7 linked regions of the Homo sapiens genome follow. The protein of the gene in region 1 purifies or fractionates together with the protein of each later gene. This does not show direct contact. Each region holds a gene or a part of one and is shown in the gene's direction. Other genes may lie near its edges.

The links.
Region 2: the proteins of TULP2 (region 1) and ESPL1 purify together in Homo sapiens (affinity purification with mass spectrometry; 2 studies listed by BioGRID and IntAct, with this or other methods). This does not show direct contact.
Region 3: the proteins of TULP2 (region 1) and AMER1 purify together in Homo sapiens (affinity purification with mass spectrometry; 2 studies listed by BioGRID and IntAct, with this or other methods). This does not show direct contact.
Region 4: the proteins of TULP2 (region 1) and MYO5C purify together in Homo sapiens (affinity purification with mass spectrometry; 2 studies listed by BioGRID and IntAct, with this or other methods). This does not show direct contact.
Region 5: the proteins of TULP2 (region 1) and WDR35 purify together in Homo sapiens (affinity purification with mass spectrometry; 2 studies listed by BioGRID and IntAct, with this or other methods). This does not show direct contact.
Region 6: the proteins of TULP2 (region 1) and IFT122 purify together in Homo sapiens (co-immunoprecipitation; 3 studies listed by BioGRID and IntAct, with this or other methods). This does not show direct contact.
Region 7: the proteins of TULP2 (region 1) and POLA2 purify together in Homo sapiens (affinity purification with mass spectrometry; 2 studies listed by BioGRID and IntAct, with this or other methods). This does not show direct contact.

Annotation. Positions count from the first base shown.
Region 1 is NC_000019.10:48,888,595-48,892,631, reverse strand, and holds part of TULP2 (tubby-related protein 2), read left to right. Parts: intron 1-3,000; coding exon 3,001-3,122; intron 3,123-4,037.
Region 2 is NC_000012.12:53,284,838-53,288,874, forward strand, and holds part of ESPL1 (separin), read left to right. Parts: intron 1-1,086; coding exon 1,087-2,075; intron 2,076-3,134; coding exon 3,135-3,504; intron 3,505-3,700; coding exon 3,701-3,862; intron 3,863-4,037. UniProt on the Homo sapiens protein: Caspase-like protease, which plays a central role in the chromosome segregation by cleaving the SCC1/RAD21 subunit of the cohesin complex at the onset of anaphase. During most of the cell cycle, it is inactivated by different mechanisms.
Region 3 is NC_000023.11:64,195,352-64,199,388, reverse strand, and holds part of AMER1 (APC membrane recruitment protein 1), read left to right. Parts: intron 1-4,037. UniProt on the Homo sapiens protein: Regulator of the canonical Wnt signaling pathway.
Region 4 is NC_000015.10:52,246,834-52,250,870, reverse strand, and holds part of MYO5C (unconventional myosin-Vc), read left to right. Parts: intron 1-2,087; coding exon 2,088-2,171; intron 2,172-3,278; coding exon 3,279-3,413; intron 3,414-3,856; coding exon 3,857-3,954; intron 3,955-4,037. UniProt on the Homo sapiens protein: May be involved in transferrin trafficking. Likely to power actin-based membrane trafficking in many physiologically crucial tissues.
Region 5 is NC_000002.12:19,972,870-19,976,906, reverse strand, and holds part of WDR35 (WD repeat-containing protein 35), read left to right. Parts: intron 1-1,243; coding exon 1,244-1,377; intron 1,378-2,273; coding exon 2,274-2,439; intron 2,440-3,198; coding exon 3,199-3,344; intron 3,345-4,037. UniProt on the Homo sapiens protein: As a component of the IFT complex A (IFT-A), a complex required for retrograde ciliary transport and entry into cilia of G protein-coupled receptors (GPCRs), it is involved in ciliogenesis and ciliary protein trafficking.
Region 6 is NC_000003.12:129,516,519-129,520,555, forward strand, and holds the end of IFT122 (intraflagellar transport protein 122 homolog), read left to right. Parts: intron 1-950; coding exon 951-1,076; intron 1,077-2,588; coding exon 2,589-2,668; intron 2,669-3,049; coding exon 3,050-3,214; intron 3,215-3,657; coding exon 3,658-3,747; 3' UTR 3,748-3,989; downstream 3,990-4,037. UniProt on the Homo sapiens protein: As a component of the IFT complex A (IFT-A), a complex required for retrograde ciliary transport and entry into cilia of G protein-coupled receptors (GPCRs), it is required in ciliogenesis and ciliary protein trafficking.
Region 7 is NC_000011.10:65,295,793-65,299,441, forward strand, and holds the end of POLA2 (DNA polymerase alpha subunit B), read left to right. Parts: intron 1-71; coding exon 72-198; intron 199-1,327; coding exon 1,328-1,477; 3' UTR 1,478-1,879; coding exon of another isoform or gene 1,880-1,921; 3' UTR 1,922-2,893; downstream 2,894-3,649. UniProt on the Homo sapiens protein: Accessory subunit of the DNA polymerase alpha complex (also known as the alpha DNA polymerase-primase complex) which plays an essential role in the initiation of DNA synthesis.

The DNA of each region.
Region 1 (4,037 bases):
TTCGGGAGGCTGAGGCAGTAAAACGGCGTGAACCCGGGAGGCAGAGCTTGCAGTGAGCTGAGATCGCGCCACTGCACTCCAGCCTGGGTGACAGAGCAAGACTCCGTCCCCCCCCCAAAAAAAAAAAGAAAAACTGTTCTGCTTTGAGATGCTGTTAATCTGCAACTCTTGTCCCAACCCTGTGCTCACAGAAACATGTGTTATATTGACTCAAGTTTTAAGGGATTTAGGGCTGGGCAGGATGTGCTTTGGTAAAAATGGTTTTGCAGGCAGTATGCTTTGTGAAAGTCATTGCCATTCTCCATTCTCTATTAACCAGAAACATAACACACTGTGGAAGGCTGCAGGGACCCCTGCCCAAGGAAGCCTGGGCATTGTCCAGGATTTCCCCGACTGAGACAGCCTGAGATATGGCCTCGTGGGAAGGGAAAGACCTGACGGTCCCCCAGCCCGACACCCGTAAAGGGTCTGTGCTGAGGAGGATTAGTGAGAGAGAAAGGCCTCCATGCGGTTAAGATAAGAAGGAGGCATCTGTCTCCTGCACGTCTCTGGAAATGGAATGACTCAGTGTAAAACCGACCATACATTCTATTCTGAGATAGGAGAAAACCACCTTATGGCTGGAGGCGAGACATCATGGCGGCAATACTGCTCTTTACTGCACTGGGATGTTTATGTAAAGTTAAACATAAATCCAGCCTATGTGCACATCCAGGCACAGCACCTTTCCTTAAACTTATTTATGACACAGAGTCTTTTGTTCACATGTTTTCCTGCTGACCCTCTCCCCACCATCACCCTATAGTCACACCAAATTCCCCTCACCAAGATAGTAAAGATAGTGATCAATAAATACTGAGGGAACTCAGAGATCAGCGCTGGTGCGGGTCCTCACTTGCGGAGCACTGGTCCCCTGGGCCCACTTTTCTTCCTCTATACTTTGTCTCTGTGTCTTCTTTCTTCTCTCAGCCGCTCGTCTCCACCTTGCGAGAAATACCCACGGGTGTGGAGGGGCAGGCCCCCTTCAGGCTGGAGCGCAGTGGCACGATCTCGGCTCACTGCAACCTCTGCCTGGCTGGGTTTAAGCGATTCTCCTGCCTCAGCCTCCTGAGTAGCTGGAACTGCAGGTGCACGCTGCCACGCCCTGCTAATTTTTGTATTTTTAGTAGAGACCGGTTTCACTATGTTGGCCAGGCTGATTTTGAACTACTGACCTCGTGATCCGCCCACCTCCGCCTCCCAAAGTGCTGGGATTACAGGCATGAGCCACCGCCCCTGGCCCACCTAACAAATTTTTTTTTTTTTTTTGAGACGGAGTCTCGCCCTGTTGCCCAGGCTGGAGTGCAGTGGCACAATCTCGGCTCACTGCAAGCTCCGCCTCCCGGGTTCACACCATTCTCCTGCCTCAGCCTCCCAAGTAGCTGGGACTACAGGCGCCGGCCACCACACCCGGCTAATTTTTTTTTTTTTTTTGTATTTTTAGTAGAGACGGGGTTTCACCATGTTTGCCAGGATGGTCTCGATCTCCTGACCTCGTGATCCGCCCGCCTCGGCCTCCCAAAGTGCTGGGATTACAGGCGTGAGCCACCGTGCCCGGCCATAAAATTTTAAGGTTCATCCGTGTGGTAGTATTATCAGTACTTCATTCCTTTTTATTCCCTTATAATATTCCATTGTGGTGACGTTTCCTTTTATTTTCATGAGATGGCCAATGATTTCAATGACAGAATTATTATCACCCCAAACTCCATCCCCCCATCTTCAGTCTCTGTGATGCTTTGTCTGAGATAAGGAAAAGGAAAGACCCTAACCCCTCCCTGTCCTTAGATCCAGGGTAATCAGAAACTCTGGCCCTTGTAGACTTCCGTGCACCTGGAGGAGGAGGAGGTTGTTGCAAGTGAGGGCGCTGAGTCATGAGTAGGGACTGAGAACCCAGGAGTTCTGGCCATCTCTGGCTAGCACTGATGATGGTGTCCCACACTCCTGGGATCCAGCTGTCCTGAGCTTAGTCCAGGCTTCTTTCATCCTTTAGGTGAAGGGGTGGGTTGCCCCTCCACACCTGTGGGTTCGTTAGGTGGAACGAGAGACTTGGAAAAGAAAAAGACACAGAGACAAAGTATAGAGAAAGAAATAAGGGGACCCAGGGAACCAGCGTTCAGCATATGGAGGATCCCGCCAGCCTCTGAGTTCCCTTAGTATTTATTGATCATTTGTGGGTGTTTCTCCGAGAGGGGGATGTGTCAGGGTCACAAGACAATAGTGGGGAGAGGGTCAGCAGACAAACACGTGAACAAAGGTCTTTGCATCATAGACAAGGTAAAGAATCAAGTGCTGTGCTTTTAGATATGCATACACATAAACATCTCAATGCTTTACAAAGCAGTATTGCTGCCCGCATGTCCCACCTCCAGCCCGAAGGCGGTTTTTCCCTATCTCAGTAGATGGAACGTACAATCGGGTTTTATACCGAGACATTCCATTGCCCAGGGACGGGCAGGAGACAGATGCCTTCCTCTTGTCTCAACTGCAAGAGGCATGCCTTCCTCTTATACTAATCCTCCTCAGCACAGACCCTTTACGGGTGTCGGGCTGGGGGACGGTCAGGTCTTTCCCTTCCCACGAGGCCATATTTCAGACTATCACATGGGGAGAAATCTTGGACAATACCTGGCTTTCCTAGGCAGAGGTCCCTGCGCCCTTCCGCGGTGTTTGTGTCCCTGGGTACTTGAGATTAGGGAGTGGTGATGACTCTTTAGGAGCATGCTGCCTTCAAGCATCTGTTTAACAAAGCACATCTTGCACCGCCCTTAATCCATTTAACCCTGAGTGGACACAGCACATGTTTCAGAGAGCACGGGGTTGGGGGTAAGGTTATAGATTAACAGCATCCCAAGGCAGAAGAATTTGTCTTAGTACAGAACAAAATGGAGTCTCCTATGTCTACTTCTTTCTACACAGACACAGTAACAATCTGATCTCTCTTGCTTTTCCCCACATTAGGGACCCGTGCAGAGGGTGAGAGTGACTCCCAGGATATGGGAGATGCACACAAGTCACCCAATATGGGACCAAACCCTGGAATGGATGGTGACTGTGTATATGAAAACTTGGCCTTCCAAAAGGTAGGAAAATGCACAATCACTCAGGATATTGGAAGAAGAGGGCTAGCCTCGGACCTCTGGTGAGGGTGGGGCTAAAATTCTGCCACCCAATCAGAAGCTCTTTTTCCTGGTGGTGATTAAGCTGGCAGAGACTTGTGTGTGTGCGTGCGTGCGTGCGTGCGTGCATGTGTGTGTGTGTACCATTCATCAAATCAGAGGATTTGACTTGACATGGACATGGCCATTAAAATACAGCTTATGGTATGGTGGCTCACGCCTGTAATCCCAGCACTTTGGGAGGCTGAGGTGGGCAGATCACTTGAGGTCAGGAGTTCGTGACCAGCCTGGCCAACGTGGTGAAACCCTGTCTCTAGTAAAATACAAAAATTAGCCAGGTGTGGTGGCGCACGCCAGTAATCCCAACTACTCAGGAGGCTGAGGCAGGAGAATCACTTGAACCTGGGAGGCGGAGGTTGCAGTGAGCTGAGATTGCACTCCAGCCCGGGAGACAGAGTGAGACTGTCCAAAAAAAAAAAAAAATAGGTGCAGCCATGGAAAGACAGCGAGCTTCAGAAAGGGCAGAACACTGATCGAAAAGGGCCAGTTGCAGGCCAGGAACGGTGACTCACGCCTGTAATCCCAGCACTTTGGAAGGCCGAGGCAGGCAGATCACCTGAGGTCAGGAGTTCCAGACCAGCTTGGCCAACTTGGTGAAGCCCCGTCTCTACTAAAAATACAAAAATTAGCTGGGCGTGGTGGCGAAAGCCTGTAATCCTAGCTACTTGGGAGGCTGAGGCAGGAGAATTGCTTGAACCTGGGAGGCAGAGGTTGCAGTGAACCGAGATCGAGTCACTGCACTCCAGCCTGGGCGACAGAGCGAAACTCTGTCTTAAAAAATAAAAGAAAAGGGCCAACTGGCACTCACTTTGGTGTTGG
Region 2 (4,037 bases), on another chromosome or scaffold:
CCCATCTCTACTAATAATACAAAAATTAGCCAGGCATGGTGGCGGGCACCTGTAATCCCAGCTACTCAGAAGGCTGAGGCAGGAGAATAGCTTGAACCTGGGAGGCGGAGGTTGCAGTGAGGAAGATTGCACCATTGCACTCCAGCCCGGGTGACAGTGCGAGACTCTGACTCAAAAAAAAAAAAAAAAAGAAGAAAGAAAGAAAGAAAGATAATATTTAGAATTCAGTCCTCAGTCACACTAGCCACACTTCATGTGCTCAATAGCCACATGGCTAGTGGCTACCGTATTGAGTAGCACAAACATATCCTCAGGAGGGCTGAAGCTAATAATAAAACATTGCATTGATGGCACATTTTGTCTCCCCAATCACATATACTTCTAGTACTTCATTTGCCCCACACTAGACCTCATAAAGCTGAGTGGGAGCATAGATTATTTTCATTTGTTAAATGAGAAAGTTGAGAAGTCTATGTTTGGGGCCAGCATCACAGGGTAGGAGGCAGGATTCAGGTGTGGGCCTGCTGGGGCCAGCCTGCTTTTCTCAGCCATGTGGCCCCTGAGCTGCAGGTGTGGGGGCTTTGTGGCCTGCATTTGATCCATTGTTGGTTGGAAAGAAAACAAAAATTTTACCTCCAAGGCGGGCGGATCACAAGGTCAGGAGATCGAGACCATTCTGGCTAACACGGTGAAACCCCGTCTCCACTAAAAAATACAAAAAATTAGCCGGGCGTGGTGGTGGGCGCCTGTAGTCCCAGCTACTCGGGAGGCTGAGGCAGGAGAATGGCATGAACCCGGGAGGCGGAGCTTGCAGTGAGCTGAGATTGTGCCACTGCACTCCAGCCTGGGCGACAGAGAGAGACTCCATCTCAAAAAAAAAAGAAAAAAAGAAAAAGATTTTACCTAAAAAATAATAAGCCATACTAATATTTGATATGTTATACAGTAATACATATATATACACACATATATATACACGTACGTATATAAAACACATATATTAGAGAATTGGGCCCCAAGGTCGCTCAGGAAGTGCTTGATGCCATTTCTCCCCGTTTTGTAATTCTTGTTCTGCCTTCTCCCCAGAGTTTGGTGGGGTGACTCAGCACCTGGACTCTGTGAAGAAGGTCCACCTGCAGAAGGGGAAGCAGCAGGCCCAGGTCCCCTGTCCTCCACAGCTCCCAGAGGAGGAGCTCTTCCTAAGAGGCCCTGCTCTAGAGCTGGTGGCCACTGTGGCCAAGGAGCCTGGCCCCATAGCACCTTCTACAAACTCCTCCCCAGTCTTGAAAACCAAGCCCCAGCCCATACCCAACTTCCTGTCCCATTCACCCACCTGTGACTGCTCGCTCTGCGCCAGCCCTGTCCTCACAGCAGTCTGTCTGCGCTGGGTATTGGTCACGGCAGGGGTGAGGCTGGCCATGGGCCACCAAGCCCAGGGTCTGGATCTGCTGCAGGTCGTGCTGAAGGGCTGTCCTGAAGCCGCTGAGCGCCTCACCCAAGCTCTCCAAGCTTCCCTGAATCATAAAACACCCCCCTCCTTGGTTCCAAGCCTCTTGGATGAGATCTTGGCTCAAGCATACACACTGTTGGCACTGGAGGGCCTGAACCAGCCATCAAACGAGAGCCTGCAGAAGGTTCTACAGTCAGGGCTGAAGTTTGTAGCAGCACGGATACCCCACCTAGAGCCCTGGCGAGCCAGCCTGCTCTTGATTTGGGCCCTCACAAAACTAGGTGGCCTCAGCTGCTGTACTACCCAACTTTTTGCAAGCTCCTGGGGCTGGCAGCCACCATTAATAAAAAGTGTCCCTGGCTCAGAGCCCTCTAAGACTCAGGGCCAAAAACGTTCTGGACGAGGGCGCCAAAAGTTAGCCTCTGCTCCCCTGCGCCTCAATAATACCTCTCAGAAAGGTCTGGAAGGTAGAGGACTGCCCTGCACACCTAAACCCCCAGACCGGATCAGGCAAGCTGGCCCTCATGTCCCCTTCACGGTGTTTGAGGAAGTCTGCCCTACAGAGAGCAAGCCTGAAGTACCCCAGGCCCCCAGGGTACAACAGAGAGTCCAGACGCGCCTCAAGGTGAGGTGGGACTGTTGCTAGGTGGTGGTGATGGTGTTGGATGGGGTTAGTCCTGGAGGAGAGTGTTTTATAGAGCAGGTGTCCCTGTGGAATAGCTCCCCAGGGCCTAGTGGAACTTTAATCTCCTGCTATCTGCAGTACCCCAATATCTTGCTTTTTTGTTTTTTGTTGTTTTTTTGAGAAGGAGTCTCGCTCTGTCGCCCAGGCTGGAGTGCAGTGGCGCAATCTCAGCTCACTGCAAGCTCCGCCTCTTGGGTTCACGCCATTCTCCTGCCTCAGCTTCCCGAGTAGCTGGGACTACAAGCGCCTGCCACCATGCCCAGCTAATTTTTTGTATTTTCAGTAGAGACGGGGTTTCACTGTGTTAACCAGGATGGTCTTGATCTCCTGACTTCGTGATCCACCCGCCTCGGCCTCCCAAAGTGCTGGGGATTACCGGCGTGAGCCACCATGCTCAGCCTCTTTTTTTTTTTGAGACGGACTCTCACTCTGTCGCCCAGGCTGGAGTACAATGGTGCGATCTCGGCTTACTGCAACCTCCACCTCCCGGGTTCAAGCAATTTTGCCTCAGCCTCCCGAGTAGCTGGGATTACAGGCGGGTGCCACCACACCCAGCTTATTTATGTATTTTTAGTAAAGACGGGGTTTTACCATGATGGCCAGGCTGGTCTCAAACTCCTGACCTCAGGTGATCCGCCTGCCTCAGCCTCCCAAAGTGCTGGGATTACAGACGTGAGCCACTGTGCCAGGCCAACATCTTTCACAGCAAGACCTATTTCCAAGTCTCCCTTTGTTTCAGACAGAGACATTTTCCTTAACTCTAATGTTTCTTTTACCTTTTCATCCCACCTTCTGTTCCCTCATTTTCTCCCTCCTTCCACACCCAAGAGTCGCTGCCCCTGATCTAGAGTGTTGGCTGTCATGTGAGAAGTTAGTTCTGAAATCTTCCAGGGTCCTGTGTGATGGTGCCTGATGGTGCCTCCACTACGCCACCTGCTGTCACAAGGTGTCTTGTCACTGAAGACCTCTTAGCCCTTCACCCTTTCACTCTGATCTCAGGTGAACTTCAGTGATGACAGTGACTTGGAAGACCCTGTCTCAGCTGAGGCCTGGCTGGCAGAGGAGCCTAAGAGACGGGGCACTGCTTCCCGGGGCCGGGGGCGAGCAAGGAAGGGCCTGAGCCTAAAGACGGATGCCGTGGTTGCCCCAGGTAGTGCCCCTGGGAACCCTGGCCTGAATGGCAGGAGCCGGAGGGCCAAGAAGGTGGCATCAAGACATTGTGAGGAGCGGCGTCCCCAGAGGGCCAGTGACCAGGCCAGGCCTGGCCCTGAGATCATGAGGACCATCCCTGAGGAAGAACTGACTGACAACTGGAGAAAAATGAGCTTTGAGATCCTCAGGGGCTCTGACGGGGAAGACTCAGCCTCAGGTAGGACAGCAAGGGTGAGGTGGAAGGTGCATGTTTTGGGGGTTTGTTCTGGGGCAAAGCACAAGCAGTAAGTGCTGCCAAGGAAGTACAGGAAGAATGTTCTTTTGCTGACTCTAAGGGAGTGGATTACAGAAGGAAGAACAAAGAGAATGGCAGGGGGAGGGAGCACTGTGAAAAAGGCCTGCTCTCTCCCCAGGTGGGAAGACTCCAGCTCCGGGCCCTGAGGCAGCTTCTGGAGAATGGGAGCTGCTGAGGCTGGATTCCAGCAAGAAGAAGCTGCCCAGCCCATGCCCAGACAAGGAGAGTGACAAGGACCTTGGTCCTCGGCTCCGGCTCCCCTCAGCCCCCGTAGCCACTGGTGAATATGCGACCCCTGATGTTGGTCACTTGGAGAGGGCTGAGCCTCTAGGGCTTTTGACCCCTCTGTCTTTCCAGGCTGGGTTCGGATCTGGATCCAGTAGCCTCTGAACCTGTGTTTGAACCCCAGCACTCTGTCTATGAGCTGTGTGCAGGTCACTTAACCTCTCCAAGCT
Region 3 (4,037 bases), on another chromosome or scaffold:
GCACCAAGAAACTTCAGGTGAATTAGAATTCAGTTGAATCAGCATTGTTTGAGCTCCTGCTGTGTGCTAGTTGTAGTGACTGTAAGATGAAGGAGGGTCAATTTGAGAGAGATGAATGAACAGACCAAAGCCCGTCAGGATGAATTATACAAAGCTCAGTATGTAAACAAATCAGTTGAGAGGGGCTGGTGGGGGAATTGGGACAGGAGAGAGAAGTCCCAATTTGGGGTCTTGCTGCATCTGGAGTTGGTGAGATGCCCTCTGGGCAGGAGGTGCCCCTCAGCAGGAAGGCTGCAAATTAGGGGAGGAGCTGAAGGGGCTCTGCCAGCTGCATCTACAACTCCATCAGCCAACCAAGCCAAGCAGCCCTTCCTTTAGGCTCTGACCAAATAGTTTTGAGGGCAGTACTTGGCTATGGGTGTTAAAAATGGATCATTCAAGTTCCAGATCATCTGATAAGTCATTTTCTTCAAATAGCTCAAATTCTGCATCTTTGTCCACGTTGGCAGGTTTCTCGTTTTTGGGCCACTCAAACCTATCTCTTAAGGAAAAGGGGAGTAGAGTGACATGTCCTGTAGTTTGAGAGGAGTGGTGGTAGGGTTGCTGATGAGGAGAGCAGCCACAGGCTGGGTTGTTGGCCCCTAGATTCTGATGTCAGCAGGCTTCCTGGAATGTGTTTGGTAGGACCCAAACAGTGGCAACCAGTGAGGACTGGAAATGTGGCAAAGAAGGCTTAGCAGGGCTGGGACAGAGGTGGGATGGGATTGGGAGATTATAGTTCTTGCTGGTGTGAGGGTAAACTTTGCAGTTCTCTTGCTCAGTCTTCCTCCTTTGATTGGTGGCCTGCACAGTGCAGCAGAATGGCATGAAATTGAGACTCAACAGTTCTGGGAGCTAGTGTGGCTCTGTCACCATTTCACTATGTGACCTTGGACAAGTCTTTTCCCAAGTCTAGGCACAGTTTCCTTCTCTGTGACAAGGAGTTGCCATCCCCCACCAGGCCTGAGTAATGGGTGGCTGAGGAGGGCAAATGGGGGGGTATGGGAGTAGGGAGTGCTTTATAAAGTGGTAAATACCCTGAGGGTGAAGGATATCTGTTGATTTGCATTTCCTTTGATGTTGGTACTTTTAGCTGAGTTTGACCTGGGCTAGAGAACCTGGCTAGTTGAAAGTCCCAGATAATCCTTGGCTGCTAGCCAGTAGCTGACTCTTTTAGGTCCCTGAATATCAAAAGTTGGCTAAATGAGCAAGTAAAGCCTCCTATGACATGACCACACAGTTATCTTCATTTACCATTTGCCATTTGGGAAAACTGAGCCCCAAGGAGGTTTGGTGACTTACCCACAGAGCCCTAGGGAGCACCCTACTCAACCTGACTGAGATGATTTTACTTCTAGAAATTGTTCTACCACAGTTTGAATAAAATATGAATAAAAGTTGGTTACTATAATGTTTTTAGCTTCTGCTATGTAATGCACTTGATTTGGTACATTATGTGCATTGGTTTTACTTCTTACAATAGCCTTAAGAGGTAGGCACTCTCAATGACCTCATTTTACAGTTAAGGAAATTGAGGCATAAACATGGGAAAAAACTTGCTGGATTTCCCCTAGCTGGGCAGAGTTGATTCCAGCGCTGAAATGGCCAGCTCTCTGGAGGGCCATCCTCACCATTTTTTCTTTAACCAACCCTCCCCAACATACAGAAGGGCAGGTGGGCCTGAAGTGGGCTTGCTTTCAGGAAGACTGTTTGGAACAGGCCTGAGGAACTATGGCTGGTCAAGGCCATGTCTCTGGAGCTACTGCATAAATCCACTTGCTTCTTTTTCTTCCCCCAATTCAGCCCTCTTCAAGTTGGCCATGCTGGCCCCGGGAAGCTGATTTGGAGCAGAATGTGCAAGGCTCATATTGCAGCTGTCCCTTCTCCTTGAGAAGGGTCTCTAGGGCAGGTATGTGGCTGGCCTCCTGCCTATGTTTTAAGTGGAGAGGAGAAGGAAGAAGCTCTTCCTTTGTAGCCAGCCTTCCACTGGCCCCAGAATGGCTTGAATCTGGCTCAGGGAGCTGGAATGGCCCCAGCGCTTTCTACCACAGCCTGCTTTCTGCCATGATAGCAGCTGCTGCAGCAGGCAGTCCCTGCAAGGGACCACAGAGTGGCTTGGGAGGGTTCTCTTAACCCCCAGCCCACCTGAAACTCAGCCACACTGGTTAAGGAACATGAGGGTTGTGGGGCCCTGCATTTGGCAGTGCCACTTTCTTGACAGGACCCCCAGGGAAAGCCAGTCCCAGCCTAGGGGATCTGCAGAGTCTGTCCTTTGCTGTCTCCTTTGCTTTCTGCCCCACCTCACTCTCTTGGTGAACTCTTGTGGTCCTAAGTAAAGGCAGCATAACCCATTGAGGAAGGATAGCTTTGGCACCTGGTTGGATAGCAAAGAGTATGGAGAAGAGGCCTAAGGCAGAGGTAGCTAGGTGGGGCTACGCTAGGGAGCTACCAGCTATGGGTGACCCTGCCACCTTCCTTCCCAGTGTTCTGGGTGACATAGGCAGAGATACTGTGAATGACTGTGGGGGGACATGGCTCTGGGAGAGAGAACACAGAGTACCAGTTTAAGGCTGGTATCTGCCAGCAAAGATGACTCTGGACTTGGTTAGGAGAAGGGCCTGAACTGGACGGAGAGAAACTCCATCCCAGGGACACCCTGCGTAATTCATCTGTCTCCCACAACACACAGAGAGGGCTTTTCAAACCTCTTAGCAGAGGAGTTTGTATAGATATACACACCTTTTTAAAATCCCCTCATATCTGTCTCCCTCTCAGCATGGGCCAAGGCAGCAAGTCCCTGAGCTTCCCACAGTGAATGGCTTTCCCAAATGAACAGCCTTTAACACATGGTCAGTTGCTTCCTAAGAAACTGGGATCTGACCTGGAAGGAGTAATAATAACTGTAATGACAGTCTTTCTCATTTGCACTGTACTATACAGTTTATAAAGTGCTTTTTTTGTGCCTATTATCACATCAACTCATCACACCACTGTAGTTGGAGTGGGCAGGTAGAAGGATAGGTAGAGGAGCTGTTTTGATCTCAAAATAGCTCACAAGTACCTGCGTCTCAGCAGGCTACACTGGCCCATTCAGGGTCCCTTGGCAGATGGGAGGCTGACATGGCCTGGACCCCAGCCCTGTGGTCCATGGCTCCTTCCACAACACACTGCAGCTCCCTGTGACAGGAAAGGGGACAATACAGAGAGAGGTGAGTGGGCTGGCCTCTACCCTCACAGAGCATAGGAGCAAGGGCAAGGGAAAGCCCAAAGAGACTGTCTTCTAACTGGGGCGTCAAGGCTCTGGAAAGCAGCCTTCTTTGTGATTCAATTTGCCAAATCACTCTGTTCCCAGGAACTCCAGCCCCAAACCCAGCAGGACAAGTCAGCCTTTGATTCACAAGGATGTGTAGGTCCTAGAGTTTTTCACTTGGCTGTGAGGTTTTCCTTGAGGCCCAGCCTTACTGCCCAAGAAGTGTCTTTCTCCCTTTCACATTTATCTTGGAATATGTTTACAAGGTATAAAGAATGATACTCCACCAACCAGCTTTAGAAATAACAGGGGCTATTCTTTAAGGCAGCGGTTCCCAACCTTTTTGGAACCAGGGACCTGTTTCATGGAAGACAATTTTTCCATGGATGGAGAGGAGGAAGGTTTTGGGATAAAAGTGTTCCATCTCAGATCATCAGGCATTTGTTAGATTCTCATAAGGAGAGTGCACCCTAGATCCTTCGCATGCGCAGTTTGCAATAGGGTTCACGCTCCTATGAGAATCTAATGCCTCTGCTGATCTGACAGAAGGCAGAGCTCAGGTAATGTTCACCTTGCCCTCCTGCCTGCCGGTCACTTCCTGTTGTTTGGTCCAGTTTCTAACAGACTGTTACATATAGGACTCTCCCTGTTAGCCTAGGAGCTCCTTAGAAGCAAAGGCTGGGAGTTCTCCCTTCTTGTCCTGCCCTGAAGCACTGAATTCCAGAGGGGAATAGAATTTCACAAACAA
Region 4 (4,037 bases), on another chromosome or scaffold:
AATCACATTATAGAAAGCTTAGAAAACAGAAGGAAAAAATTGCCATAACCACCTGCCCTAAATGTACATTCTTATTTGTTTTCCTTCCTTAAGGGAGCTCCTACCTCCTCCCATGTCCTGGTTGGGTGTTGCCTTGGTGGCCTAGCCCAGTGCCAGGGCTCACAGGAATGGCTTGTGCTTGTCTATGTTTATCGCAGAGGCCGGTGCTGTGAGTCAGAGCTGGTCATTCCCGAGTGACTGATGGTGGAGGGAGGGGACAGCAACCTGGAAAGCTGTGATCACCTTTGTGTGCTAGCAGAGTACTGTAAAATATTAAAATATAGGATTGGCCGGGTGCAGTGGCTCACACCTGTAATCCCAGCACTTTGGGAGGCTGAGGCGGGTGGATCGCTTGAGACCAGGAGTTTGAGACCAGCCTGGCCAACATGGCGAAACCCCATCTTTACTAAAAAATACAAAAATAAGCCAGGCGTGGTGGCACGCACCTGTAATCCCAGCTACTCAGGTGGCTGAGGCAGGAAAATTGCTGGAACCTGGGAGGCGGAGGTTGCATTGAGCCAAGATCACGCCACTGCACTCCAGCCTGGCTGACAGAGTGAGACCCTGTCTCAAAAAAAAAAAAGAAAAAGAAAAAGAAAAAAAAAAGATAAGTTTTTAGTGCTTAGACTTTTTCAGATGGGCTCCTGAAAAGATGCCTATGAAATGAAATGATCATATGTCAAATTATATTTCCTAGCTATTGTCATAATTTCAGGGTTCTGGTCCCATAGGAAAAGGGAGGGGGAAAGACCAGACTCCATAAAAAGCACATATGGGATTTCTTTCAAGGGTCTCTCTTTATAGGATGTAGTTTCTGGACATGTAATTCTCTCACCTGCCACTTCCAAGAAGTCTCCCTTAAAAGAACTAGGCAGCGTTTGGGCTGGACTATGGATTGATTGGTGGGAAGAACCCACATGCACTATGGGGTTAGATTAGGTTTTCAATCTCATTGGCCAGGGAAATCAGGTCGTATTGAATGCAAGTCAGCTGAGCTTAGATGTAGCAGCTCAGCACATCTTCCTTTGGTCCCAGAGTCCCCAACAGAGGCACCAGCTGCATGTGACACTGTCCCCACAGATGCTCGCCCAGACCAGGAAAGCTCTGTATTTGCCACCTTTGTCTATCTGTCCTAGTGGCTCACACCACCATTCTGGAAGAATTTGTACAACAATCCAGGTACTTCATTCACAAAGAAGTGTTTGCAAACAGCCGGTGTTCCTGGATCTTAACCTACCTACCGGCAAGGATACTTCCTTACCTGGGGGACAAAGCAGAGGCCATGCCCAGGGAACCCTCTGCTTACGGATTCCAGCACTCTCCCCTGTTTCCTCATTGTCAATTTTTAAAATTAATTTTAATATACGTTTTTAATTTATGAAAAATAAATTATCACATATTAAGATATGCAATCCAGAGGCATAAACTAGGGGGAGGTTGAATGTTGAAGCAGCCACCCTGGATATGCCATGGTTTGAGGCATTCGAGAAGCCTTCTTCATCAGAAAGGGCAGCATGGAGAGTTTTTCTAAGCTAGATTCAAGCAGTGCAAAGGTTGACCCACTCTAAACCTGATTCTGAGGGCTTGGTGGCTCTTGAAGGCTTGGTGGTCAGCTGGTCGGTTTTTCTATCCTTTCTACCACATTAATGTTGATTTAGGAAACGATGTCTGTTTGAACCCAATGAACACCACTAAGCTTTTTCCTCCTCCTGGTGGCTTCAAAGGCAAAGGGAGACCTAAGTCAGGTGTTCTTGTAGGAACTGCACATACCGCAGGGAGCAACTGGACCCCTGTGGCCAGAGGGAGCCAACAGGTGAGTGCAGAGTGATCAGCAGGCAGGTGAGAAACCCAGGTGGTGGGAGAGAAGACACATTCCCAGCTTATACATAATGGGGCTGCTGCCATGATGCACAGAAGCCAGACGTCTTTTTGTAAGATTGCCTCTGTAGCCTTTTTTATTAATCTTTCTTAAAAAAGAGATGAAACTTGTGCTTAGAGGCTATATTCTTTGGCCTCTTTGGGAATAATTAATTGCTTTCTCTGTATAGGTAGAGTATAAATGTGAAGGTTTCCTGGAGAAAAACAGAGACACCGTCTATGACATGCTGGTTGAAATCCTGAGAGCAAGCAAGGTCTGTAAAGTCCTAGGGGTAACTAAAGTTATTATATAATTGACATGGATCTAGATGTATATAAGGAAAGAGTAAGGAGAGAGAGAGAGAGAGTGTGTGTGTGTGTGTGTGTGAACTCTCTGGACAGTGGTAAGTTGTAGCTCACAGATTCAAAAAGATAACTACTGTAAATCTCTACTATATGCAAAATCAGAAATCAAACATGCAGATGACAGGAAGGACAGCTAATAGAACCATTGAAGAATCACAATTCCAGCCAGACGTGGTGGCTCACGCCTGTAATCCCCGCATTTTGGGAGGCAGAGGCGGGTGGATTGCTTGAGGCCAGAAGTTTGAGACCAGCCTGGCCAAAAAAGCAAGACCCTGTCTCTTCTAAAAATATAAAAAAACATTAGCAGGGAATGGTGACATGCCTGTAGTCCCAGCTACTTGGGAGGCTGAGGTGGGGAAGACTGCTTGGCCCTGGGAGATAGAGGCTGCAGTGAGCCATGATTGCGCCACTGCACTCTTCTTCTGGGCAGCAGAGCAAGACCCTGTCTCAAAACAAAACAAAACAAAACAAAATATGAAATTCACTCTGAGAGAAGATAAGACATTTAAAGAAATAACTGATACAAAGCAGAAGGTAGTAAGTGCTTTAAATGAGGTACAAATACAAGATGAAGACGGTTCAGAGAAGTTGGGATTAATTCATTCATTGCGAAGTGGGTGGGGCTGGAAAACATTTTAAGAGATTCCTGGGTAGGGTTTGGATCTGCAGGGATGAGAATGTGGAGTAGGAGGGAGGAGATTGCAGGTGGAGACACAGTGTGAGCCAGGCACGGAGGTGAGAATAGTAGATGTTTCCACTTTCTGACACTTAGAGTGATACCCACATACAGACATTTACACACTTTTCTTCTCTGTTCCCCTTCTCGGGAAAGAAGTCACGGGCCATCCCTATGAAAGACGATCGTCTTGTGGAATTGAGATTTGGCTGTAGATGTTGGTGAGGTTGTTCACCGCCCACTAGTTTAGCTGAGTTGTTGTCACCATTTACGTGGCTTGTATGAGTGAGTACTGTGGGCAGTTGCTTTTGGACATTGAGATCCTCTCTGTTCCTTCCAGTTTCATCTCTGTGCCAACTTTTTTCAAGAAAATCCAACTCCTCCTTCTCCTTTTGGTTCAATGATTACAGTTAAATCTGCAAAGCAAGTCATCAAGCCAAACAGCAAGCATTTCCGGACCACAGTTGGGAGCAAGGTACTGAGAAGGTGTTTGAGAGTGAGGGGTCTAAAGGCAGGGCCAGGCCCTGGGGAGCCAGGGCACTCAGAGGACCCGCATTCCAGGCCTGGACATGGACAGACGCTGGGGCTCTTCCAATCTAACATGGACTCCACTGCAAAAAGTTCATCGTCGTCATACTTCCACCTCCAAGGCAGCACGCACTGGAGCAAACCACGCTCTTGCACAATAACATGGTTTATTCAGTTCTCTGCTGTCTGGGAGTATTAGTGTTCTGTCCACAACAGTAGGACATGCTGATAAACCACAGTCACGGACTGAAACCTTTCATAATAGGTGTTTATGCATGAGGTTAACTTTTCTTCCTATTGAGTAACTTAACAAGGTTGGGCTGCTTTTTACCGTGATGTAAGCAGTAAATTATTTCAGAGCCATGTTTGATCTCTAGCTTTGTTTCCTAGTTCCGCAGCTCTCTGTACTTGCTCATGGAGACCCTCAATGCGACGACGCCCCACTACGTTCGATGCATCAAGCCAAATGATGAGAAGTTACCCTTTGAGTAAGTGTTCTTATGCAACACACAGCGAAGACGTGGGAAGGCAGTTTCTGCCATAAAGTTGGAGAATTTGCTTCCAATTGTCT
Region 5 (4,037 bases), on another chromosome or scaffold:
TTGAGGCTGCAGTGAGCCATCATCTTACCACTACACTCTAGCCTGGGCAAAAGAGTGAGACCCTGTCTCAGGAAAAAAAAAAAAATCAGCAACATTTAAGGGATAGGCAGAAGAAGGATGTCGAGAAATATAAGAGTCTTAGAGATAAAGGAGTATATGGGCTAATGGCAGCCAAGAGAGTTCAAGAAGGAGGGAGTGGTAAAAAAAAAAAAAAAAAAGTATCAATTGGCTTTAGCAACAGGCCATCAGTGACGTCCATGAAGGCAGTTTCTTTCTTTTTTTTAAACAACAGAAATTTATTTTCTCAGAGTTCTAGACTCTAGAAGTCCAAGATCAAGATGTCAACAGGTTTGGTTTCTTCTTTTTTTATTTATTATTTTTATAGATTTAGAGGGTACAAGTGCAGGTTTGTTATATGGATATATTGAATATTGGTGAGGTCTGGACTATTAGTATATAACCATAACCCAAATAGTGTATGTTGTAGGCAGTTTCAATGGAGTTGTGGGGCAGAAGCCAGATTGGGAGGGGTTAAGGGTTGAGTGGCAGTTGAAGTGGAGACTATAGGTGTGAAGAACTCTTTCATGAAGTTTGGTTGGGAAAGGAATGGTAGAAATAGTAGTTAGAGGGGGAACTTGGGGTTAATAAAAGTGTTTATTTTATTTAGGGTGATGGTTTCAAAGAGAAATAGATCTGCATGTGTTTAAATCCACATAAGAAAGGCCCTGGAGTGAAGAGTTTAATGAGAAAGAGAAAATGAGAGTAGTCGATAAAGGGAGATCTTTGCAAAGGTAGGAAGGGATTAGATCAGAGAATACATAGAGGAATTAGCCTTGGATAGGGGACTGACTGGGGAAATACCTCTTCTTTTGTATTAGTGGGCAACGCAGAAAGTGTAAGCATGGACTCAGTTATGTTCTGAATTGTTGAAGATGGGAATGAGGAATTTGTTTTTTGGGTGCTTTTATTTTCTTTCCAAAATAGAAGATGGGCTCAACTGCTAATTGGGAGTGAGATCCAGCATCAGAGTTTAGAAGAAAGGGGAGAAAGGTTGAAACAGCTGCTATTTCAGATGTCTTTTCAGGCACATATAGGTGCTCAGTAAATATTTATTGGCCAAATAAATTGAATGAATGCATGAATGCTGTGAAGAATTTGTGAGATCTTTAGAAAAACAAAGATTTCGAAAGCCGTTGTTGGAGGATCATGACCTTGAACAACTTTTAATAATGTTTTGTTTTAGGCAATCGTATTTGGGGAAAAGACCTGAAGGGTATACAGCTATCCCATGTAACATGGTCTGCGGACAGTAAAGTCTTACTTTTTGGAATGGCAAATGGGGAAATACACATTTACGATAATCAAGGAAATTTTATGGTAAGTAAGTGTATGCATCAGTCTTGTTTATACAATTTTATATGATTATCGTACATATCATTCATGTTTGTATATACATTTATTTTTTATGGCGGTTTGTGTAATTAAAGTCTTCAATTCAGATTTTTTTTCTTTTTCCCAATCGTCTAAATTTTGTTTTAATTAAATAAAATTTTGGTTTTCTCAAGGCAAATTAGTGCAACAAGTTCGAGTGTAGCTTTTAGTTCCAATTTTTTTTGGTAGGTAGAAAGGACGAGGTGTCAGTGCATTTAAGCAGAGAGATAATGAGTAGGGCGATGTGCAGTTTAAGTTTTATAGGTGTCTTCTGGTGTCTGAAGCCAAAGTTTACATGTAGATACCACAGGGTATTTTTGTAGCAAGCTACCAATGGTTGTTTGTAAAAAGAATGACAGACTTAAATGGTAAGTGAGAAAAATCAATCCCTGGAAAGAAGGTAAAATAGAATAGGATCAGGCAGCATAATCTGGAGAAAAATTCTGGCTTTGCAAGGTTTAGCTATCATAGATGTATGATTACTGGTGGGGCAGTTTTGTTTTTTAGCAAGGGTTAGGACATTAAGTAAATCCACTCACTGGTGGAAGTAAAATAATGAACTTTTATGTCATTTTGCTGTTTTCAAAGTACTTTTATATACTTGTTGTTTGAGTCTCATAAAAACTCAGTGTTTTTTAATCCTCATTTTTTACATGTGGGGAAAATGGACATTTAGGTGATTTGTCCATGGCCTGTATACCAGTAAGTGATTAAGCTTTAATTTGCCACCTGATTTTTAGACTGTATTTTTCAGTGTTCTTTCTACAATACTCTATTGAGTATTGTCTCTATACTGCTGTGTTTTAAAATGTAAAATATTAAACCTAACCAATTTTATTTAGATAAAAATGAAACTGAGTTGTTTGGTGAATGTCACTGGAGCTATCAGCATTGCTGGAATTCATTGGTACCATGGCACAGAAGGCTACGTGGAGCCTGATTGCCCTTGCCTTGCTGTTTGCTTTGATAATGGAAGATGCCAAATAATGAGACATGAGAATGACCAAAGTAAGGAATTTTTCTGTTTAAAAAATTTTTTTAATTTCTATTTTTTTTTTTTTCTTTTTGAGATGGAGTCTCACTCTGTCGCCCAGGCTGGAGTGCAGTGGCACGATCTTGGCTCACGGCAACTTCTGCCTCCCGGGTTCAAGCGAATTTCCTGCCTCAGCCTCCCGAGTAGCTGGGACTACAGGGCGTGCCACTATGCCTGGCTAATTTTTTATATTTTTCGTAGAGACGGGGTTTCACCCTGTTAGCCAGGATAGTCTCTATCTCCTGACCTCGTGATCCACCTGCCTCAGCCTCCCAAAGTGCTGGGATTACAGGCGTGAGCCACTGTGCCCGGCCTCAATTTCTAATTTTTAACTTTTTTTTTTTTGCGACAGGGTCTTGCTCTGTTGCCGAGGCTGGAGTGCAGTGGTGCGTTCTTGGCTCACTGCAGCCTTGGCCTCCCAGGCTCAAGGTCTCAGCCTCCTGAGGAGCTGGGACCACAGGTGTGCACCAACTCCTCCAGCTAATTTTTGTATTTTTCGTAGAGACAGGGTTTCACCATGTTGCCCAGGCCGATCTTGAACTCCTGGACTCAAGTGATCCGCCCGCCTCAGCCTCCTAAAGTGTTGGGATTATAGGCGTGAGCCGTTGTACCCAGCCCTGTTTTTTTAAAAATGTGGAAAGTTTTAAAAATGTTTAAAAGTTGTTCTTAAGATTATAAAGTTCTCTAGGCTACGTATTTTCCCACAGTGACCTCATTTTTCTCTTTCTGACTAGATCCCGTTTTGATTGACACTGGCATGTACGTAGTAGGCATCCAGTGGAACCACATGGGCAGCGTGTTAGCTGTGGCAGGCTTCCAGAAGGCAGCCATGCAGGACAAAGATGTGAACATTGTGCAGTTTTACACTCCGTTTGGTGAGGTAAATGCATTCAAATTGATCTTCTTTCTTTCTATTTAAATGTGCAGTGAGTAAGGTAGAGGAAAAAATAACAAAGGAAACGGTGTAAACTTATCACATTTTCTTTTAGGGACATTTCATCTTCATAGTATAAATCTTTGTTGTATTTTATCATGGAATTTTATAATCTTATAGTTTTATAATTATAAAATAAAAATTACAATTTTATACATTCAGAAAACCAGAAGTTTAACATAAGAAATCACCATGGAGTAGTTATTTTGAATATTTTCTCTGTGATCTGAATATGTGTCTCTTTTCATAGCCAGCTTTTGAGTAGTATTTAGTATAATATAGTTGTTTCAGATTAATTTTTCTGATTTTTAATGTGATATTTTAAATGTGTTTAGATGTTAAACATACATATCTGTCTGTCCTTCCTTCAAACTTCTAATACTTTTAATTTGTTGCAAAGTAATCAGTTATTTGAAGAAAATTTAATAATTAATCTTAGGTGATGCTACATTAAAATAAAAGCATTGTTTTCATAAATGTACATATGAGTATTATCCTTCTCAATAGTATTTTTAATAAATTTAATTTTAAAAGAATTTTCAGAAGTAGCATTGGAAAATGTCAAGTAGGAGAATTAATATATTGTGAATTTTAAAGAATTTAGAAAGTGAGAGCTTATTAATAACTAAGCTTAATACG
Region 6 (4,037 bases), on another chromosome or scaffold:
GTGCACACACAGAGACTGCCCCTGCACACACACAGATTGCTCCTGCACACACACACACACAGAGAGACTGCCCCTGCACACACACAGAGACTGCCCCTGCACACACACACACACACGGAGACTGCCCCTACACACACACACAGAAACTGCCCCTGCACACACACAGATTGCTCCTGCACACACACACACACACACACACACACACACAGAGAGACTGCCCCTGCACACACACACACAGACTGCCCCTGCACACAGACACACAGAGACCGCTCCTGCACACACACAGAGACTGCCCCTGCACACACACACAGAGACTGCCCCTGCACACACACACACACAGAGGCTGCCCCTGCACACACACAGACCGCTCCTGCACACAGACACACAGAGACCGCTCCTGCACACACACGGAGACTGCCCCTGCACACACACAGAGACTGCCCCTACACACACACACACAGACTGCCCCTGCACACACACACACACAGAAACTGCCCCTGCACACACACAGATTGCTCCTGCACACACACACACACACACACAGACTGCCCCTGCACACACACACAGAGACTGCCCCTGCACACAGACACACAGAGACCGCTCCTGCACACACACATGGAGACTGCCCCTGCACACACACGGAGACTGCCTCTGCACACACACAGAGACTGCCCCTACACACACACACAGACTGCCCCTGCACACACACACACACAGAAACTGCCCCTGCACACACACACATTGCTCCTGCACACACACACACACACACACACACACACACACAGAGACTGCTCCTGCACACACATACAGAGACTGCCCCTGCTGCCTCTTCTTGCTTTTGGTGAAGCTGCCAGTGGGTTGAGAAGCAACTCTGTGGTCACCCCACCTGCCTGGCGGCAAGTCCTTTGCAAGGCCTCCAGCCCCCTCAGCCCTTTCTCTATGCCCTCCAGACGTGCTACACCTGGTTGAGTTCTACCTGGAGGAAGGGATCACTGATGAAGAAGCCATCTCCCTCATCGACCTGGAGGTGCTGAGACCCAAGCGGGATGACAGACAGCTAGAGATTGCAAACAACAGTATCCATGCCCTTGGCCAGAGCCTGTGTGTGCGGCTGTGTGAGGGGTCTGGGGACAGGCGGGAAGTAGGAGGGCCCAGTCCCAGGGGATCGCGGGCCATGCTGAGCCTGGCCCTGTGTTCCCAGAGAGATTGGAGAGGCCCACATGGGACAGGGACAGGGATCAGAGATGGGCAGACAGCTGGCCAGGGCCTAAGGACCCAGAAGTGGCAAGTGGCACCTTGGTCTTCCCGTGTGGGTCTCCCACCCTCCCCTGACCCCTAAAAGGCACTGGCTGTGCCTCTGTCTGTGCATAGCTCCTGCATAGCCAACATGGGACATGATGTCATGATGTCGGTGTTGGCCCCCAGCTCTTCCACTCAAGTCACTTTCGCATGCAAGTGACAGAGTCCAAAACTGACAAGCTGAACAAGCAAAGGGTGTGCAAGGAAGCCCCAAGCAGGAGAGGAAGCTTCCTGGCCCAGCGCTCAGTCTGGTCGGTCACAGGCTGGCTCTGCCTCTCTTGGCCGCACTGTCCTCTGGGCAACTTCATTCTTTGGCAGCCCCGTGGTGCCCCCATAACACAGAGATGTCAGGAGCAGTGCCAGCCCCACATCCCCTCAGCCTTATAGCCCCCAGAAACAGCCAGCTTTCCTCTCAGCTGTGGCAGTGAAAGCCCCGGGGCACAGCTCAGCCTGCCCCTTGGCCAGGAGGATGCACCAGGGCAGTTGTCCAGGGCAGGCCACACTTGCAGGCTGGACATGGGAGGGGCTTCTGGCAGGGAACAGCACACACGTGGCCTGAGGCCTCGCTCCCTTGCACTGACTGAGTCTGCAGGCCTGGGGGCTGTAAGCCTGCCTTCCTTGCAGCTCCCAGGTGCTGCCACCCCCAGGGGCCACACTGGGAGGAGGGAAGCTCAGAGAGCTGCTTGCTGAAGGAAAGACGGACCCATCTCTGCCACCCAGGCTCCCTCAGGTGCCACAGATGATATGTGCTATGGTGCTGGCAGGTGGGTGCTGTGCCCACTCCAACTTGGTACCAGCAGTCCCCATGTCCTGGGCCTCCCTGCAGGACCCCTGCTGGCCTCTGTTACCAGCCCCACCACTGTGGGAGAGGGGCGGTTTCCAGGGACCTCCAGGTGAGTCTGACCCGCCCTGGGGTCAGCAGGGACTCTCGCCCCTGTCTGCTCCATCACAAGTGCCCGCAGACCCCCAGCAGCCACTGAATGTTTCTCCAGGATCCCTGGGCCCATCCCCTCCGTGCCTACCCGCAGTGGCTCACAGGGCCCGCATGTGCTTCCCACTGGCCCTGGGAGCTATGGTGTGTGTGGCCTGCGAGGGGAATGGGTGAGGGCAGCAGGGCCAGCAGAGTCCCTTCCTTCTGATTCCTTGGCCTGAGCCCCCTCTGTTCCTCCACCTGGAAAACTCTTCCACTGGTCTGGCTGCCCTTGAGTCTTCTCACAGGGGTGTAGGGTGGAGGCTAGGGTCTGTCTCCATCTCTGCTTCTGATTCCATCCTTGACCAGATCCCTCCAGGCTCCCAGATTCTGCGGCTAGTGGAGACCAAGGACTCCATCGGAGATGAGGACCCGTTCACAGCTAAGCTGAGCTTTGAGGTGAGGGTGCCTCTCTGGGTGACCTGCAGGAGGGCAGCCTCCATCCCTTCTCCTGTGCACATGGGGACCCTCAGCTAGCGCAGTGGTGGAGGAGGATTGGCCAGAACTTCCAGATGTGGTGGCACGAAGGAGGGGCAGGACCCCTTCCTGTGGGGTGTGGGAGCCATGGCTGCCCCCGAGGGACCATGGCCAAGGGCGCAGGTCTGTGGACAGGGAGGCAGCTTCAGCTCTGGTGGGAGGAGCTTGCCACTGTTAGGGTCACCTGGGTTTAGGAAGCAGGTCCTCTCTCACCACTGCCAAAGATTCCAGGATCATAATCCACACAGATGTCTCACTGTGGCTGAGTGAGGACACTGTGCCTCCTTCCCGCCCACCCTGCAGCAAGGTGGCTCAGAGTTCGTGCCAGTGGTGGTGAGCCGGCTGGTGCTGCGCTCCATGAGCCGCCGGGATGTCCTCATCAAGCGATGGCCCCCACCCCTGAGGTGGCAATACTTCCGCTCACTGCTGCCTGACGCCTCCATTACCATGTGCCCCTCCTGCTTCCAGGTAGGTGGCCACCCTGGTAGCTCACATGTGCTTCTCTTGGCCACTTTTCCCTTGCCCAAATGTCCCTCTGGGAGGCGTGGCCCCTGGGAGGAGGGGCACATCCATGGCTCCAAGTTGGGACAGAGGCTTGTCTGTCCTCTCCCCTGCTTGCATTCCATGTGCATCTAAAGTGGACTTCACTGGCCCCTGCGCTGTCCACATCCTCCCCAAATCCTGGGGGCCCAGCAAGCGTGATGTGCCCTTGACCTTCACTCAGAAAACAAGAAACCCCACAGCCCCCTCCCATCTCCCCTTCCAGCCCTCAAACAAAGGTGCTGCAGGTCTGTGTCCAGCCCTGACCACTGCCAAGCCCCCTCCCCTTGAGAGGCAGTGCGTCCTGGCCCCAGGCGTAGGGCTGATGAGCACTAGGGCTTCAGCCTGGTCTTACAGCTGTCTTCCCTTAGATGTTCCATTCTGAGGACTATGAGTTGCTGGTGCTTCAGCATGGCTGCTGCCCCTACTGCCGCAGGTGCAAGGATGACCCTGGCCCATGACCAGCATCCTGGGGACGGCCTGCACCCTCTGCCCGCCTTGGGGTCTGCTGGGCTGTGAAGGAGAATAAAGAGTTAAACTGTCAGAATGTGTTTCTTGCCCAGATGAAGTTTGTGTTTTGTGGGGGGGGCCTTGTGTAACCACGGAATTCCTATTTATGGCATTTCATGCCTTGTAAATAGCACCAGGAGATGAGGAAGAGAATGTACATATATTTTCTAAGGAAAAAAATCTGTTACTTTCAGAACGGCTCCGAGTTGTTCGTGGCAGCCTGCTGGAGTCCGCCGATCTG
Region 7 (3,649 bases), on another chromosome or scaffold:
CTAGGGGGACTCTGTCTGAGAAGGGGGCCCCCCGGTCAGCTAGTGCTGACAATTTCTCTCTGTCTCTGTAGCTACTACCCACTCTACCCGCCCCAAGAAGACATGGCCATTGACTATGAGTCGTTCTATGTTTACGCACAGCTGCCTGTCACCCCAGATGTCCTCATCATCCCGTCAGAGCTGAGGTACTTCGTGAAGGTAGGTTTGAACTCTGCTTTTTCCCAGAAACACCAGAACCCAGTCTTTGACTTTCCCTTCTAGACCACCCGGCACTCACCCCTCATGGGTCAGCTGATGGGGATGGGGCCTCTAGCACCCTGCCCTGTGGCCTTGTTTCTTTGGGGAGGTGGTGGGACCAGAAAACAAACAACTCTGTCAGTAAAATGCTTGAGTAAACAGTGTCCTCTCCTCCCTCCCCAAGAGAACGAGAGCCCAGATGACTAGGAAGGCCCTCAAATGAGGGCTTTCACCAGGCCACATAGAGGTGACCTGGGGAAGATTTCATATGTACACTTGCCTGTCCTCTGCCTCCCAAATTCTGATATGACCTCCAAGTGGGCTCAGCTGGGAATACCTTGAAGAAGCTATTGGGTCATTTTGATCTCTGCCACCCTTTAGCCCTGCCTGCCTTGGAGTTAGGTCCCTTACAAGGAATCTGCCTAGACCAGTCCCCCTCTTGCCAAACAAGAGTTAGTTCAATCTCAAGAGGTTAAAAAAAAGTTTTTCACATGAGAAAGCAGTAAACAGCTAGATCAGGTTTGTCTCCAAGTTTAGGAGCTGATTGTCATTCTGCCAAGTCACCTCATTCTTCTGTTTGAAAGACTTAAAAGGAATTCAAAGCTTTCTAGTGACAAGTTAACATATGTGACTGAGGCCGGGCGCAGTGGTTGACAATTGTAATCCCAGCACTTTGGGAGGCCGAGGTGGGTGGATCACCTGAGGTCAGGAGTCTGAGACCAGCCTGGCCAACATGGTAAAACCCCATCTCTACTAAAAATACAAAAATTAGCCAGGCATGGTGGTGTGGGTGCCTGTAATCCAAGCTACCTGGGAGCCTGAGGCAGGAGAATCGCTGGAACCCGGGAGGTCGAGGCTGCAGTGAGCTGAGATCTCACCACTGCACTCCAGCCTGGGCAACAGAGCGAGACTCCATCTCAAAAAAAAAAAAAAAAAAAGTGACTGAAAATGTGTCTGGTGATTTGGTTGCCTTCGTTTCCATTTTCTAAAACCCTCTTTGGGGTCCAGCCATGTGATGGCACTTCTTTTTCACATTGGTTCCCAGTTAGTTGAGGCTCTCCAAACCTGTCACCTCTCCTCTCCTCCCCAGGATGTCCTCGGCTGTGTCTGTGTGAACCCTGGGCGCCTTACCAAAGGGCAGGTGGGAGGCACCTTCGCCCGACTCTACCTTAGGAGGCCGGCAGCGGACGGGGCAGAGAGGCAGAGCCCATGCATTGCTGTGCAGGTCGTCAGGATCTGAGGCTTCTGTCCTCTGCTGTTCTCTGCTGTGTGGGCCCTTAAAGTCTTAGCCAAGAGCCAAGACATAGCCCTGTGACAAGGTGAACAGTTGGGTGGGAAAGGAGAGAGGAGCCAGCCAGGGAGGGGCAGCTGCAGTGACCAGGCCCAGCAGGGAGGACTTGTGCAGCCGGGCCTGCCTCTGAGTGGTGCCTCTCCTGGAAGGAAGCTCTTGCTTCTCAGTCCATGCTCCGTGTCCAGAAGTAAGCCAGCTGTGGATCCCGCCCACTCAGAAAAGGCGAGAAGGCTTTGTGATTTTCTACATGAATCAAACACAGAAACAACTTTTGGAGAAATTAAATTCTGAGTGTGACTTCTGAGTTTGACCTTTCTTCTATTTTCTTTTATTTATTTATTTTGTTTTTAGACGGAGTCTCGATCTGTCGCCCAGGCTGGAGTGCAGTGGTGAGATCTCGGCTCACTGCAAGCTCTGCCGCCCGGGTTCATGCCATTCTCCTGCCTCAGCCTCCTGAGTAGCTGGGACTACAGGCACCCACCACCACGCCTGGCTAATTTTTTGTATTTTTAGTGGAGATGGGGTTTCACCATGTTAGCCAGGATGGTCTCGATCTCCTGACCTTGTGATCTGTCCGCCTCAGCCTCCCAAAGTGCTGGGATTACAGGCGTGAGCCACCGCGCCCGGCCCCTTTCTTCTATTTTCTTTATCCTGGTAGTAGACAAAGAATGTTGCCTATTTGACCTATGTCCAGAGAAGGCAGAGTGTCAGTCACACTGGGTTTCTATCCAGCCCCAGTCCTGTCCAGTGGGTAACTCTCAGCCCCACTCCTCATCCCCCAAAGGCCCCAGTGACCTCTATGCTGCAGAGGTGCACTGGGTGGGCCCTAGAGCTGGGCTGCAGAGCAAGCAACTGGCTGCATGCCTGGGCCTCCCTGCGCAGTTCCTCACATGCATGCTGTGGTCCCAGCCTGACCTCTCCATCTGGAGGGGGCCGCCTCGCTGGGCTGTTCCAAAGCTGGAGTCCTGGTGGCAGCTGCTTTGCCAAGTCGCGCAGTAGCCAGGGCTTGCCTGCAGCCCAGAACACTCAGACAGGGTCAGGCCTTCCAGGGTTCACAGCACGTCCCATGCCCCTATGTCCTGGCATCTGGGGAAAAGCTGTCACTGGCCAGACGTGGAGTGGCTTCCTGCCCTAAGCTGGCAGGCTGTCCTGCCTCACATGCCAGAGCCAAGACCGGCAAACCCCAGCTGTCAGGGCAGGGAAGTGGGCAAGGGGGCAGCAAGCTGCTGGTGTCTATGCCTTGACTCCGAGATAAATAGATGACCTAACAGTGGCCAACTTTTGCCTCTCACCTTTCTGACGGTGAAATGGAATCGAGCCCCAGACCTGACCAGGGTACAGTAAAAGGTCTTCCTTTAAACACAAGGAGCAGCTGTTTTATTTCATTAGTTTTATAGGCACCTCCTCTGAGGCCAAGAATTAGAAACTCATCCCTGCGTGGGGAGTGGATTTTTCCGTTCTCCCCCAGCTCCTCCACACATGAAGCAGCCAGCTGTGTTCCACGGGGGCACCATGACTTGTCAGCCTCCGGATGTGGAATTTTGGGAGCCCAGGCAATGGTTGCCTGGATACCAGTCGTGTGACTGTTGGAAATGATCTGGGAGGGCCGGGAGGGCCGGAGCAGGCATTTAAGAGTCAGACAAAGAGAAAGCGGGATGCTAACACCAGAGCAGACAGGTCTGGCAGGCGTGCCTCTGCCACCAGACAGTTCCTTTTTGCTCTTGTCAGGAAGGTGCCAAGTGACTGCTGGCTGACCGTCCCTAGACCCCACTTCAGCTGTGTCACCAGTTTCCCCAGGCATCTGTCATCCCAGGTATTCTCAAGCAGGCTCTGGGGGCGTGTCAGTGACGGAGGGTGGGAGGGTGCCCAGGAGGTCAGGCCCGTCTGCCTCAGCCCCCTTTGGTGGCCTCTCCCTGATCTGGTCATGGCCCCTGCCCTTGAGACACCAACTAGACGGTCCTGAAGAAATAGTCCCGAGCTCTTGCCAGGATTTGCCTCCCATGCCCATGCCCTTGCCCTGCCTCTGCCCTGGCAGAAGGAGCCGCCCTCCCTTACCCGCCTCGTGGCTTCCCTTTAGGGTTCCAGTCTCTGAGAGGGAGAGGGAGAGCTGCTGAGGGAACA